Regions from separate parts of the Homo sapiens genome. Here all the other regions are linked to region 1. Evidence: fine-mapped expression QTL. A gene starts in region 1. Each other region holds a variant in brackets. All regions are shown on one strand. Distances are between the middles of the regions.

Region 1 (4,000 bases):
TTTTTTTTTTTTTGAGAACGAGTCTCTCTCTGTTGCCCAGGCTGGAGTGCAGTGGCGTGGTATCAGCTCACTGCAACCTCCGCTTCCCGGGTTCCAGCAATTCTCATGCCTAAGCCTCCAGAGTAGCTGGGACTACAGGCACCCACCACCACGCCAGACTAATTTTTTGTATTTTAGTAGCGACAGGGTTTCACCTTGTTGGCCAGGCTGGTCTTGAACTCTTGACCTCAGGTGATCCACCCACCTTGGCCTCCCAAAGTGCTGGAATTAAGGCCTGAGCCACCGTGCCCAGCCCATTTTCTACTTTTAAGGACCTTATGACAACACTGGGCCCACCCAACTAATCCAGGATAATATCCCTAATTTAATGTCAGCTGATAAGCAACCTTAATTTCATCTGTAACCTCAATTCCCCTTTGCCATGTAACCTAACCTATTCAGTCTCCAGGAATTGGGAAGTGGACATCATTGGCAGGGGGCATTATTCTGCTTGTTATAGGCATACTTGCCCACAAGTCTAAATCGAGAGTTTGCATATAGGAGGTAGGAGGTGTGACAATAATTGGATAAAGGCTTTTCTGGAATGACAAAATTCTCTTCAAATACAGGGAGGCCCTGCGACATGATATCTGGCAAATCACTTGAGTCTTAGTATCCAAACTTCCGCTAAAATGGAAATTACCATCCTTTGCTTGGCATGTTAAATGAAATACTTATGTAAACGGACTTAGATTAGAGGCCTACAAATAGGACTCAAGTTCTTGATGAATCTTGATGAGGAGGGTGGGCGAAGTACTCTAAATGAAAATGAGATAGATTGCGAGATTTCCGGAGAGGAGTGAGTGACAAGCGCCTACCCGTGCATGAAGCTGGAGGTAGAAAATTCCAGCAAAAGGAATTTTCAAGTTTCACTGAAGCTTTTGAATCAAGGCTTGAAAGCCCAGGGTTAAAAAAAAGGCAGTGAAGAAGCTCATTAAGACAACCCCCCGCCAGGTAGCAGATAGCACCTGAAATGCAGTGGGAAATTTGTGAGGTCTTCATAGGCAAGGATTAAATTTTACATCTCCATCTTAAGATGTGTCATAGTTGTTCAATTACTTAGTGACCAAAAAAGTGAATTAAAGATGTTGTCAAGATTAAAAAAACAAAAACCAATGCAGGTTCCACCGAGATTTGAACTCGGATCGCTGGATTCAGAGTCCAGAGTGCTAACCATTACACCATGGAACCGCCACGCATGTGTAGCTGCCTTCGGCTGTCTAATCCTCAGAGAACCCCGCCCCCATCCACAAACCCACCACTCACAGGCGGTCCCGCCTGGTTCCAGCGAGCCGCTTCCGGCACGGTAGCTCGAGAAATGAGCAAGCGGCCACTAAGACTATGGTAGCTAGGAGTTCCAGGACTCAGTTTCCCCTTTGAGCCTCCTTTAGCGACTAAAGCTTGAAGCCCCACGCATCTCGACTCTCGCGCACACCGCCCTTGTTGGGCTCAGGGGCGGGGCGCCGCCCCCGGAAGTACTTCCCCTTAAAGGCTGGGGCCTGCCGGAAATGGCGCAGCGGCAGGGAGGGGCTCTTCACCCAGTCCGGCAGTTGAAGCTCGGCGCTCGGGTTACCCCTGCAGCGACGCCCCCTGGTCCCACAGATACCACTGCTGCTCCCGCCCTTTCGCTCCTCGGCCGCGCAATGGGCACCCGCGACGACGAGTACGACTACCTCTTTAAAGGTGAGGCCATGGGCTCTCGCACTCTACACAGTCCTCGTTCGGGGACCCGGGCCACTCCCGGTGGACCCTCGTGCCGGCCACCCCTGCACTGATATAGGCCTCCCTCAGCCCTTCCTTTTTGTGCGGTTCCGTCTCCTACCCAGCTCAGCCTCTTCTCCCCCGCTCAGACAGGGGTCCCCATCACATGCCGCTCTCTGAGCGACCTCTCCATAGGCCTTCGCTGGCCTCAGAGCCCCTCCCTGCGTGTCCTTCCCCTGGCGGACTGCCTTCTCCCACATCGTCGAATTCCTTTCCCCGGGTTCTACGGCCCCGCCGCTCCTCCCACCATCTCTCTTTTCGGGTGTAGCGCCCCCTCCCCCTCGGCGTACACCCTTCCCAGCTCGCGTCCTCTCCCGAAGCCCCTCTGACGGGTTCTTCGCTTCCCTCTTGGCCTTGCCTTCGGTGCAGACTCCCATTACAGGTCTTTTTCTTATCTGCCCTCTTTCCCCCCTCGAGCGAGCGTCTCTTCTGTATCTCCCCTCCACTTGGACGGCCGCCCCTCTAAGCTTCTCCCATCCCGGGTCCAGGACCCCGTAAAATCTGAGCGGGCCAAGGGCCTCCGCCCCCACCCTCCGCCCCGCGGTTCTCGCGGTCCTTAACCTTCTCTGACCGCTCCCTCTCCCACTCCCCATTTGGCAACTCTCTCTACCTTCCCTCCCCAAATCGTGTTTAGAGCTCCCTTGTCTCCGTTGCGACCTGGGTGGTGGGAGGGAGGGTAAGAGGGATCGCCCATCACCCACTCGCGCACTTGTCGCAGTGACCCGGCAGGCTGACATTACTTCCCACCTAGCCTTTTCTTTTCTTGCCCTCCCTACTCAGTGGCACCCAACCCGGGATAACTCTTTACTCGGTTCGCGAGATGAGGTTGCGGATGGGTGGTGGCTGTTATCCTTGCCAGACCTGAAGGCCTGGTTCCTGAGCAGGAAAGGTTGTGCGCTGCACAAATACTAGCTTGCTTTATCTCTATGAACTGGTTGCTTCCTGCTGCAACGCTGGGAGGATCCAACAGGAAGGGAAGAGCCCTAGTTAGCCACATACCTTTCCCAAAAGGTTGGGGGTGGGAGGAAGTTGTGTGCTCTTTTGGTTACATTAAATATTTATTATAAGATACGGAAACATGTAGTGCCCTTGGACAGAACATATTGGAGGGTCAGGGTTGGTTAGAAAGAATTGCTTATTGGTTGAGTCCGGAAGGAATCCGGTTTTTTTTTTTAATCAACGAAGATAAAGGGTACATTTTTCAATGAGAAGAGAGTACAGTAGATGCTTTTTTTGTTCAGTGAATGCACTCTCACTCTGATGCTCTTTCTCTGCTCCTGAATTGGGAAGGTAGCCATCAGTAGTGTGCCGAACAAAGATCATTACCACTGAGGAAGAAGCCATTGCTATTAAAGCTTTACTGTGGAGGGTGGAGTTTCAAGAGTGTTAAGCATGGTGACTGTTTCTGTCTTTGCCATTGGGTGCTAAGAATGATTGACTAAACCAAGCAGGAAAGATTTCTTTGCTTTCCCAATACTTTGCAAATCTTGTTATACTAACTAGTCTGCTGTTATACTCTTATCATCTCTTACTCCTCTGACTCAGAATATTCTACTGTATAGGGTGAATACTTTTGGTATCCACCCTCCCCCTCCATACTGGAAAGTACTTTCAGGGTACTTAGTTCATTTTACAAATACAAAACTGAGGCCTGGATTACAAAAAGTATATGACAGCATACCTTTTGCCGAAGGTATCTGAGATGATGTGAAACTATTTGAATCTCTTGAGACTTTGGGGTTAAAGGTTAGGTTTGTGTTTTGAAATATGGTATAATGGTAGTGTGCTTTTATAAAGGTTGTCTTTGAAGTAATTAATTCAGAACAAGATAGACCGTCAGGGTATTTCTCCTGTTTGGTTTGAACTTGAATGTTGGTTATACAAGGTCCTTTTATTTTTTAACAAAGAATATTAAATATTCTGAATTGGCCTAAAGTATTTTAACTTTTTGATTAGACCATCCTTCTAGCAACAATTGAGAGCACTGAGCTTTGGAATCACGTAGACCTCGGTTTAGATCCTGACTCAGGTCTTATATTTACTTTATGACCTTGGAAAAGTTAACTTTTCTGAGTCTCAGTTCTCTACTTTATAAAAAGGAAAATACCTGCCTCTTAAGATTGTGAGAATTAAATAATGAGACTGTTCGTAAAATTTTAACCATGAGGACTCAATAAATGGTAATAATGTGAAAGAAGTT
Region 2 (4,000 bases), 31 kb after region 1:
GGTAGGCAGAGTTCTTTTTCCAAAGAAACTTATGTTTTTGGAGGATAGGAACATTTTTGTTTTTAGTAGTTGGGTATTAATTCAAGATATGCATAATATGCTTTGACATGTATTTAATTTTTGTAAATTCCTGCAAGGGTTGCTGATAGTTGCATTTTATGAGATCAAGGCTCAGAGATATGAAGTGACTTAGCTAAAGTCACACAGCTAGTGAATGGCAGTGCCAAGAATTGAATCCATGCCTTTGGACTCCTTGGCCTGTGCATTTTCTGTGATGATATTCTTGTGAATTCTTCTTTTTTGAGATGTTGCCTAGGCTGGTCTCAAACTCCTGGGCTTAAGTGATTCTCCCGCCTCAGCCTCCTGAGTAGCTGGTATTATCGGTACGTGCCACCACACCTGACTTGAATTGTTTTCAATGACTGAGAAGCTTAGGTTCAGAAGAAGTAGGCATGCATGTTTTAGCACAGATGTCAGCAATTTGACAGCCTATAAGTGGCAGACTCTTAGCAGTATCCCTGCCCTCCAGGAGCTCATCAGAATAGGGTAGACTGAAGTGTAATTGAGGTGTAAAAAGCACGTCAGTCTTAAGCTAGCCTTTGGAAAGTTCCTGTTTTCTAGCAAGCCTGTAACGTGTTCTTGGGTTGCTTACCCCCCTGTTCTTGTCAATGCTAACTGAAACCTATTTCAGCAGTATCTTTCTGATACTAGAGCTCATGCTTCCTTTCCTGCCACCTCTCAGTTGTATAGTTGTACCATCCCCGAGACTTCAGAGTACAAAAGGATGCAGGCTGGTTTCCAAATATGAAATGAGGTACTGTAGTTTCACTGGAGGAAGATGGGTTCTTTAGTGACTGGGAGTTACGGAAGGAAAGGGGATTCCCTCTTTCAGCCTCTGTACCATTCTCTGTTTGGGGAAGATCACTGACTCCTGCAGATAGTCCCAGGCAAGGCAGGATTTGCCTGGAAAGAGCAGTAAACTCTAATCTAGCAGCTCTGACCTTCTTCTGTGAAGCTCTGCTAGACAAGGGATCTAGACACAAGCACTGAGCTGCTTGAGTTGATAGAAGTGATCTAAAAGGCGTCTCAGCACTAAATTTCTGTGAAAGGTAGCAGATGGTGAAATTCTTGGATGATCTGTCACTAGAACTACCACAGTTTACATTTTGGGCTGCTATTTATGCTGTCTCCAATTTGTGAGAGTAATGAAAATGGTAAAAAGTGAAAGTGATAATGTAACTCAATGGATGTCTTAGATGTACCTTGGGACCCTGAAAGCAGAACACTCCGTATGGCTGAAGTAGCTAGATGTGTGCCACCACAAGTAGTCTTATCTCCCATAAAAGGCAACTGGTTGGAAGAGTATTTACTTTTCTGTTAAAGTAGATGTCCATTCTGTTGATGTTTGTTTCAGCAGATAGTATTTCCTCAATCTTGTACAAAAATATGTTCAGCCATTAGTTCCTTCAAGTGTTCACACAACACTCTGTGGTATAGGTAGAGCAATAATTCTCTCTCTCCTTCTCCTCTCATTGCTTATTGAGGAAGTCATTGCTTATGAGATTTAGAGTGGAAATTGACTTCCTCAGGATCACACTGCTTATCACTAGCAGAGCAAACTCTGTAGAACCAGGCTCAGCATTTTCCATCACAATTTAGCCCAGAAGTAGAGAGGGATATTGGCTTTAGTCACGTCTTAAGATTGTGGCCTCTTTAGCATATGACTCTAGAGAGAAGGAGAAAACATCCTTGCGAGACACTGAACGATCTCAGCTAGCACCAGCAAGGCCTAAAGGGAGGCCAGATATAGGCCCAGATGCTGGTTGACTTTTATTTCAAATGCTGCACTAGTGCCCTGATTTCACTAAGTTACTTATTTGAGACACCTACCAACTTCATATATATTTTTATTAGATGTCGACAAGGATGGCACATCTGTGTATGGAGACCCCATGTGCACAGG[T/C]GACTTCATTTCTACATAGCTGCTTGGACCCTTGACTGTGACCTGCCCAAACCACATAAATTTGCCCCTTAGAGGGTACTTAGTTTTTTAGTACAAGGAAGTGGTGGTAAGTCCAAGAACCCCAGCATGGCCCATCTGTCCCACTTTGGGTTCTCTGAACTCACCAGCCAAGGAGTAAGGCAATAAGGCACAGAGCTTCTGGTTTGGAAGCTGAGGACTAGTAGTATTTAAAGAAAGGCTATTGCACCTGCCTCAACTGCATATTTTCTAACGTGATGAATAACCACTTTATGTAGCAATTATAGTCTTCATTCCAATTAGGTCATTTGAAACTTGTTACATAATGAATAGGGCTGTGCAGAAAGGACTATTACTACTTCAGAATGAGGAATCTGAAGCTCAGAAAATTTGCTAGTATAATTCCTAATGTTAGTAAGTAGTTGAACCCCTATTGTCTCTTAGTTGATACCAATCAAGATGTTTTCCCTCACTACGTGTCTTGTTATCCAGTGCTCCTGTCCTTATCTCTAAAGGCAAACTGTATCTGCAGCAGCTCCACCTTACTCTGAACTCACCAGTCAAGGAGTAAGGCAGTAAGGCACAGAGCTTCTGGTTTGGAAGCTGAGGACTAGTAGTATTTAAAGAAAAGCTATTGCAGCTGCCTCAACTGCATATTTTCTAACATGTGAGGAATAACCACTTTATGTAGCACGTATAGTCTTCATTCCAATTAGGTCATTTGAAACTTGTTACATCGTGAATAGGGCTGGGCAGAAAGGACTGTTGTTTCTACTTTAGAATGAGGAATCTGAAGCTCAGAAAATTTGCTAATATAATTCCTAATGTTAGTAAATAGTTTAGTCAGGACTCAACCCCTGTCTTCTCTTGATACCAATCAAGATGTTTTCCCTCACTACGTGTCTTGTTATCCAGGGCTCCTGTCCATATCTCTAAAGGCAAACTGTATCTGCAGCAGCTACACCTTACCCTTAACAAGGAATGTCTTTCATCTATGGGGCTAAGCCCAGCTGAGAGAAAAAGGCTAAGCTCTTAAGTTTTTTGTGGATATCCCATGACTGAGTTAGGGCAGTAGGAGAGCCTTGAAGTTCAATGCCTAAAAGAACCTCGGCCAGTTGATAGTGCCTCTTCTCATTTTCACCAGAAAAGTCGGGGCTACTTTAAAGTTTTGGGGAATCAATTGTTGGCTCTGGAGCAGGGGATGATCCTAAATGGATAAAAGAGAAGTTGATGTCTGTGGGGAGGGGCTAAGCTCAGGGGGAAGTATCTTCCATACAGGAGCAGAGGATGGAGCAGTGCATGTATGTGTTGGCTGGGTGGTGAGAAAAGGGTGTTGAATTATGGACTCTTCTGTACCCCATCTCTACTGGGACTGGAGAATGGGGAAGGGCTGGGCAAGCTGGAAACTCCACCTCAGGAAGCCACTTTGTTCTCCAGCTGAGTCATCCACCTGCCTGCAAGAGGGGAGGGCAGGGTTGAGTGGAAGAATAACCAGCTGCTCTTAGATACTTCCTCATCCTTTCATAGCCCCACCCCTGTCCCAGTCCCAGCCCTTCAGGGCATTTTGCAAAGAAAGAGGAAGCATCAACCCAGGCTACCCAAGCTCTGGGAGTCACTCCTCCAAGGCTTGTCATTTGCATCAGGATTGGCGGCTTGGTCCTGTAATGCCCTGGCATTTGGTCTCATCTGGTTCCTGCCTCCCCACATAGTCATACACTGTCAGAGACAGAGGGGGCTTCTGAGATGAACTAAACATTTTCATTTTATAAAGGGAGCATCAAATCTAGAGAGAGGCAGTGACTTTCCAGGGCCACCTTGTGTGTGGGATCTGAGCCCACCTTGGCTTCTAGGTGCATGCTAACCTCCACTAAGGCCCAACTTAACTGTCAGGGAAAAACCCAGGCACCGAATATCCATCTCTTGCTTCTTGGCTTGCTACTATTAATAGAAGGCCACACTGCCTCTTCTCTTCCTGGGCCATAAATTAGCATCCTTCTCTTGATTGAGAGATAGGAGGAG
Region 3 (4,316 bases), 120 kb after region 1:
ATACTATTCAATTGTATGGACAGACTACATTTTGTTTATCCATTCGTCTGTTGATGACACTGAGTTGTTCCACCTTTTGGTTATTGTCTAGAAGACAACAGTGAACACTGGGATATAAGTATCTTTTAGAGTCCCTGAAGACAATTCATTAAAGGGACACAACTAAATATGTTTTGATGCCGTTATGGACTGTACTAGGAATAATAAATAATGCGGCCGACCATTACTTTTCTGCCTTCACTACTGTATAGGAAGGTTTAGGTGCCTGTGCCCAGTCTGCTGCATTAGCCCTGGAGTCTCTCTGGGCTGGAGGAAGACAGGAGCTAAGGTGTGTCCTTAGTTTGTGATTGCCCTTTACTTTCCCCACATCCACCATCTGGTCCCACCCTGCAGCCAGCTCAGCGGGGCACAAGAAGAGCTGTCAGCAGTGCTGTTGAAGGTGACTGGCCAGCCCTTCTCCCAGCTACCAAAGAACCCCCTCCCAGCTGCTTGTAGGATTCACTTCTTCAGACAGTGGTTCTTGGCCTGGCTGCAGATCAGCATCACTGGGGCAGTTTTAAGAAACACTCTTGCTTGAGATCTACCCATGGCCATTCCAAATGAATTGGTCTAGGGTGGTAGGGCCCAAGCATAGGTCCCTTGAAAAGCTCCCCAGGTGAGAACTCTTTTTTCCCATGATCTCTGTTCTCACTGGTCCTCTCAGGGAGATGTGCAGGAGGATGCTGGGCTGGAGGTGGGGTGGGAGAGAAGGTTAGTCCTTCCCATTCCATAGACAGGAATCCTGAGACCCAGCAAGCAGGAGGAGTTGGCCTCTGAATTGAAGGTCAAGGGATGGAAATGAACCTGGAAGCCACTGCCCCTGAGCTACCCCAGCTTGTACTAAGGACTGGGCCAAGGCCCCCACCTCCCTTCTCCTCTCCAGCAATGGGAAGGCCTGATGCAGTCACAGCCCCTCCCAGAAAGGTCTGTGGCCCCCAATCTTCCACCCCACCCACAGAAGCAGCAGCGAGAGCTGACAGGTCACGGGATTGCTCCTGAGTTTACAAAGCAGTAGGCAGGGAGGCAGAGATGGAGCAGCAGCCGCCGGAAACCATTCCAGCTGATAAATAAAGTGACTTCCCAGTGAGTGAGGCCATTTGTCAACTGACTTGCCCCAGTAAAAGCAAAGTCAAGTTCTCCGAGGCTGAGCCCCTTGCTCTTTCCAGGCCTAAGCTGCAATTCTGAGGGAGCACTGAAGGATGGGTCAGAGCCAATGCTGGGTACTCCTGGGCAGCCTCCTTCCCTCTTTGGGCCTCTGTTTTTACATCTGTAAAACAGGTTTGGATCAGTGGTTCTTGCCTGGAGTAGGTCACCCTCCCCAAGACAGCATCTGGAAATGGGAGGGGGGAATTTAGGTTGTCACAAATAATCCCAGGGACAATTGTACACAATTTAGAACTGTATCCTGGCTGTGTGCAATGGCTCGTACCTGTAATCCCAAAACTTTGGGAGGCCGAGGAAGGAGGATCACTGAGATTAGACACTTGAGACCAGCCTGGACAACACAGTGAGACCCTGTCTCTACCAAAAGCTAAAATTATCTACCAAAAGCTAAAATTATCCAGCTGTGGTGGTGCACACCTGTAGTCCCAGCTACTTGGGAGGCTGAGGTAAGAGGATCACTTGAGCCCAGGAGGTCGAGGCTGCAGTGAGCTATGACTGTACCACTGCTCTCCAGCTGTGCAACAGAG[ACT/A]CTGTCTCTAAAAATAAGATAAATAAAATACAAATAAAAAATGCCAAAGATGTCCCCATTCAGAAATACTGGGCCAGATGCGGTGGCTCACACCTGTAATCCCAACACTTTGAAAGGCTGAGGCAGAAGGGTAGCTTGAGTCCAGGAGTTCAAGACCAGCCTGGGCAACGTGGCAAAACCCCATCTCTACAAAAATTATAAAAATTAGCTTGGTGTGGCGGCATGTGCCTGTAGTCCCAACTACTCAGGAGGCTGAGGTGGGAGAATTGCTTGGGCCTGAGAGGTCGGGCTGCAGTGAGCTGTGATGGCGCCACTGTACTCCAACCTTGGTAACATGGTGAGACCCTGTCCAAAAGCAAGCAAACAAGCAAGCAAGGGAAGAAAGGAAAGAAAGAAAGAAAAGAAAAGAAAAGAAAAAAAAGAAAAGAAAAAAAGAGAAAGGAAAAGAAAAAAGAAGGAAGGGAAGGGAAGAAAGGGAAGAAAGGAAGAAAGGAAGAGAAAGAAAGAAAGGAAGGAAGAAAGAAAGAAAGAAAGAAAGAAAAAGAAAGAAACAAACAAACACTGGTAGGTAAATGCTGGAGACTCTTCAAGTCCCAATGCTGTGTGATTCTCTGCCCTGTTGCCAAATGTCCCCACTTGAGAAACAGGCCAGAGGACACAGGGATAGGAGGTGTGTTTGTATGAAAAAGAAAAATTGGAGGTGGTTACCCGAGCTCTGAGCTGAGCTATCACTCAGTTTCCTATCTTTCTGCCACTTAGATTGTTGGAATTAAATATTAATAGACCAAGGTAGATTAAAACCCAAATCTCTTGACACAGTCCCTAAGCCTAGAAGATGCTGACAGCACAGGATTATAATGATGTATCATTAGCTCTTAGTGATCTATTTATTACACTTGTTACTCGGTGTTACTTAACCACACCGTCTATACCTCCCTTAAACCTCCAAGGGGAGGCTGGGATTCACAGAGGCTGCGGCTGCATATCCCACCCATCTCCTAGGGTAGCAGGGATGGAGGAGTGAGCACACGCACGTGGGGAAAACCCTAACCCCGAGAGCTTACCAGGGACCAGCTGCATTCTCCCATGGGTTGTTTCCTCTAATTTTCTTACTAATCCTGTGCCAGTTATTCATACCCTGCCTCATTCCAAAGAGGATCTGAGGTAAACCATGTGAGATGTGATTATGATTCCATTTTCCAATGAGAAAACTGAGGTTCAGAGGCATTAAATAACTAAATCAGGGCTTCTCAACCTCAGCACATTTTGGGCCAGAAAATTCTTTGCTATGGGGAACCATCCTGTGCATTGCAGGGCATTTAGTGGCATCCCTGGCCTCTACCCACGAGATGCCAGTAGTACCTCCCCGACACACATACACACAATTGTGGCAATCAAAAGTGCCTCCAGATATTGACAAACATCCCCTGGCAGTGGGTAACATCACCTGATTGTGAAAGGTGAAGTTGAGAGTCATATATTGGCTTTCTTTACTGCTAGGCTTTAGAAGTCATCTTGTGTACACTCCACATTTTACAGGTCAGGAAACTGGGCCAGAGAAGCTGAATGACTTGCCCGTGACCACACAGCTAACAAACTGGAGAGCTGCATTTGAAACTAGCTGACTGTATCCATCTAGGGCTCTTTGCCTCCCATCACACCAGCTATTACGAGATGAGAGGCTCAATGTCAAACAATTATCAAGCACCTATCATGTTAGGGGCTCAGAAGCCTGCAGTCAGTTTGAGAAACAGACAAGCAAATGGGAAACTGTCAGAACACGGGGTGATGAGAGGAGCTCTGGGCAAGCTGTCTGCTAAAACTGGGGAGGGTGCTCCACTGTCAGGCTAGAGACAAGGAGGCCCGGGAGCGGGCAGTGTCTCGGGCAGCAGGGCAGGAGGGGGAACAAAGGCCATGGGTACATTCAATGCCCTGAGCAAAGGCAGTTGCTCCAGCTCATTACCTTCCTCATCTCTATTGCCGTAGCTTCCACCACAGCTCCAGGCAGCCAGGTCCATTTCAACCAGGAGTATCACCATCAACATTTCAGGAGTGAGTGGGGAGATTCAGGAGCAGTTTTATCAGAGCCGGGCATCTCTCTGCAGATGGCTGAATTGAAACCAACACTGAGCCCCTGCTTGAAATATCACTGCACCTGCTTGGCACTGCACCATTAGGACCCCGTTCCTCAAGGGCTGCAGGAATCCCTATTAAAATGCAAACAACCCCGTTTGTGCCTCTGTGTGTGTGTGTGGGGGGGGGGGTTAGTCACATCCTGAGGCACTATCAGCCATTAATATCTCAGTTATCTCTTAATATCCAAGTGGCAATTAGCAGATCTGGAAGCCAGATTCAGCAGGGTATGTGTATGTTTATTGACCTGCTTTAGGAGAGAGGAGGTGGGAAGATGGGAAAGTCAAATTTATCAACTTCGGGGACTTTATCAGGGACTTTATCGGGGACTTTTTTTTTTTTTTTAAATCAGCATCTGCTCTGGATGTAGAATGCCACAGTATTGTGTGGACAGATAATGGGAAGGAACAGTAAGTGTGAGAGACTTTGCAGGTATGATCTTGTTCAATTT

What was found. PIP is the estimated chance that this variant, and not a neighbour inherited with it, causes the effect. A credible set is the group of variants that fine-mapping cannot tell apart.
Region 2: its variant is the best candidate, but not a certain one, in a credible set for the expression of RAB11A in whole blood (TOPMed, PIP 0.55).
Region 3: its variant is the best candidate, but not a certain one, in a credible set for the expression of RAB11A in whole blood (TOPMed, PIP 0.89).

The regions. Positions count from the first base shown.
Region 1 is chr15:65,867,904-65,871,903 of GRCh38, forward strand. RAB11A (RAB11A, member RAS oncogene family) reads left to right here and starts at 1,588. Exons shown (of 5, transcript NM_004663.5): 1 at 1,588-1,722. The coding sequence starts at 1,683. It overlaps TRQ-CTG1-4 (tRNA-Gln (anticodon CTG) 1-4), which reads right to left and starts at 1,230; the gene lies at 1,159-1,230. RefSeq lists an enhancer at 1,402-1,461.
Region 2 is chr15:65,899,103-65,903,102 of GRCh38, forward strand. All of the region lies in intron 24 of MEGF11 (multiple EGF like domains 11), which reads right to left. Among named protein-coding and RNA genes, the nearest start is that of RAB11A, 32 kb to the left of the region's middle. RefSeq lists enhancers at 3,255-3,474, 3,561-4,000 and a silencer at 3,394-3,558. The variant T/C (reference allele first, on the strand shown) is at 1,964.
Region 3 is chr15:65,988,466-65,992,781 of GRCh38, forward strand. The region is part of intron 5 of MEGF11 (multiple EGF like domains 11); the gene reads right to left. Among named protein-coding and RNA genes, the nearest start is that of MIR4311, 50 kb to the right of the region's middle. The variant ACT/A (reference allele first, on the strand shown) is at 1,731.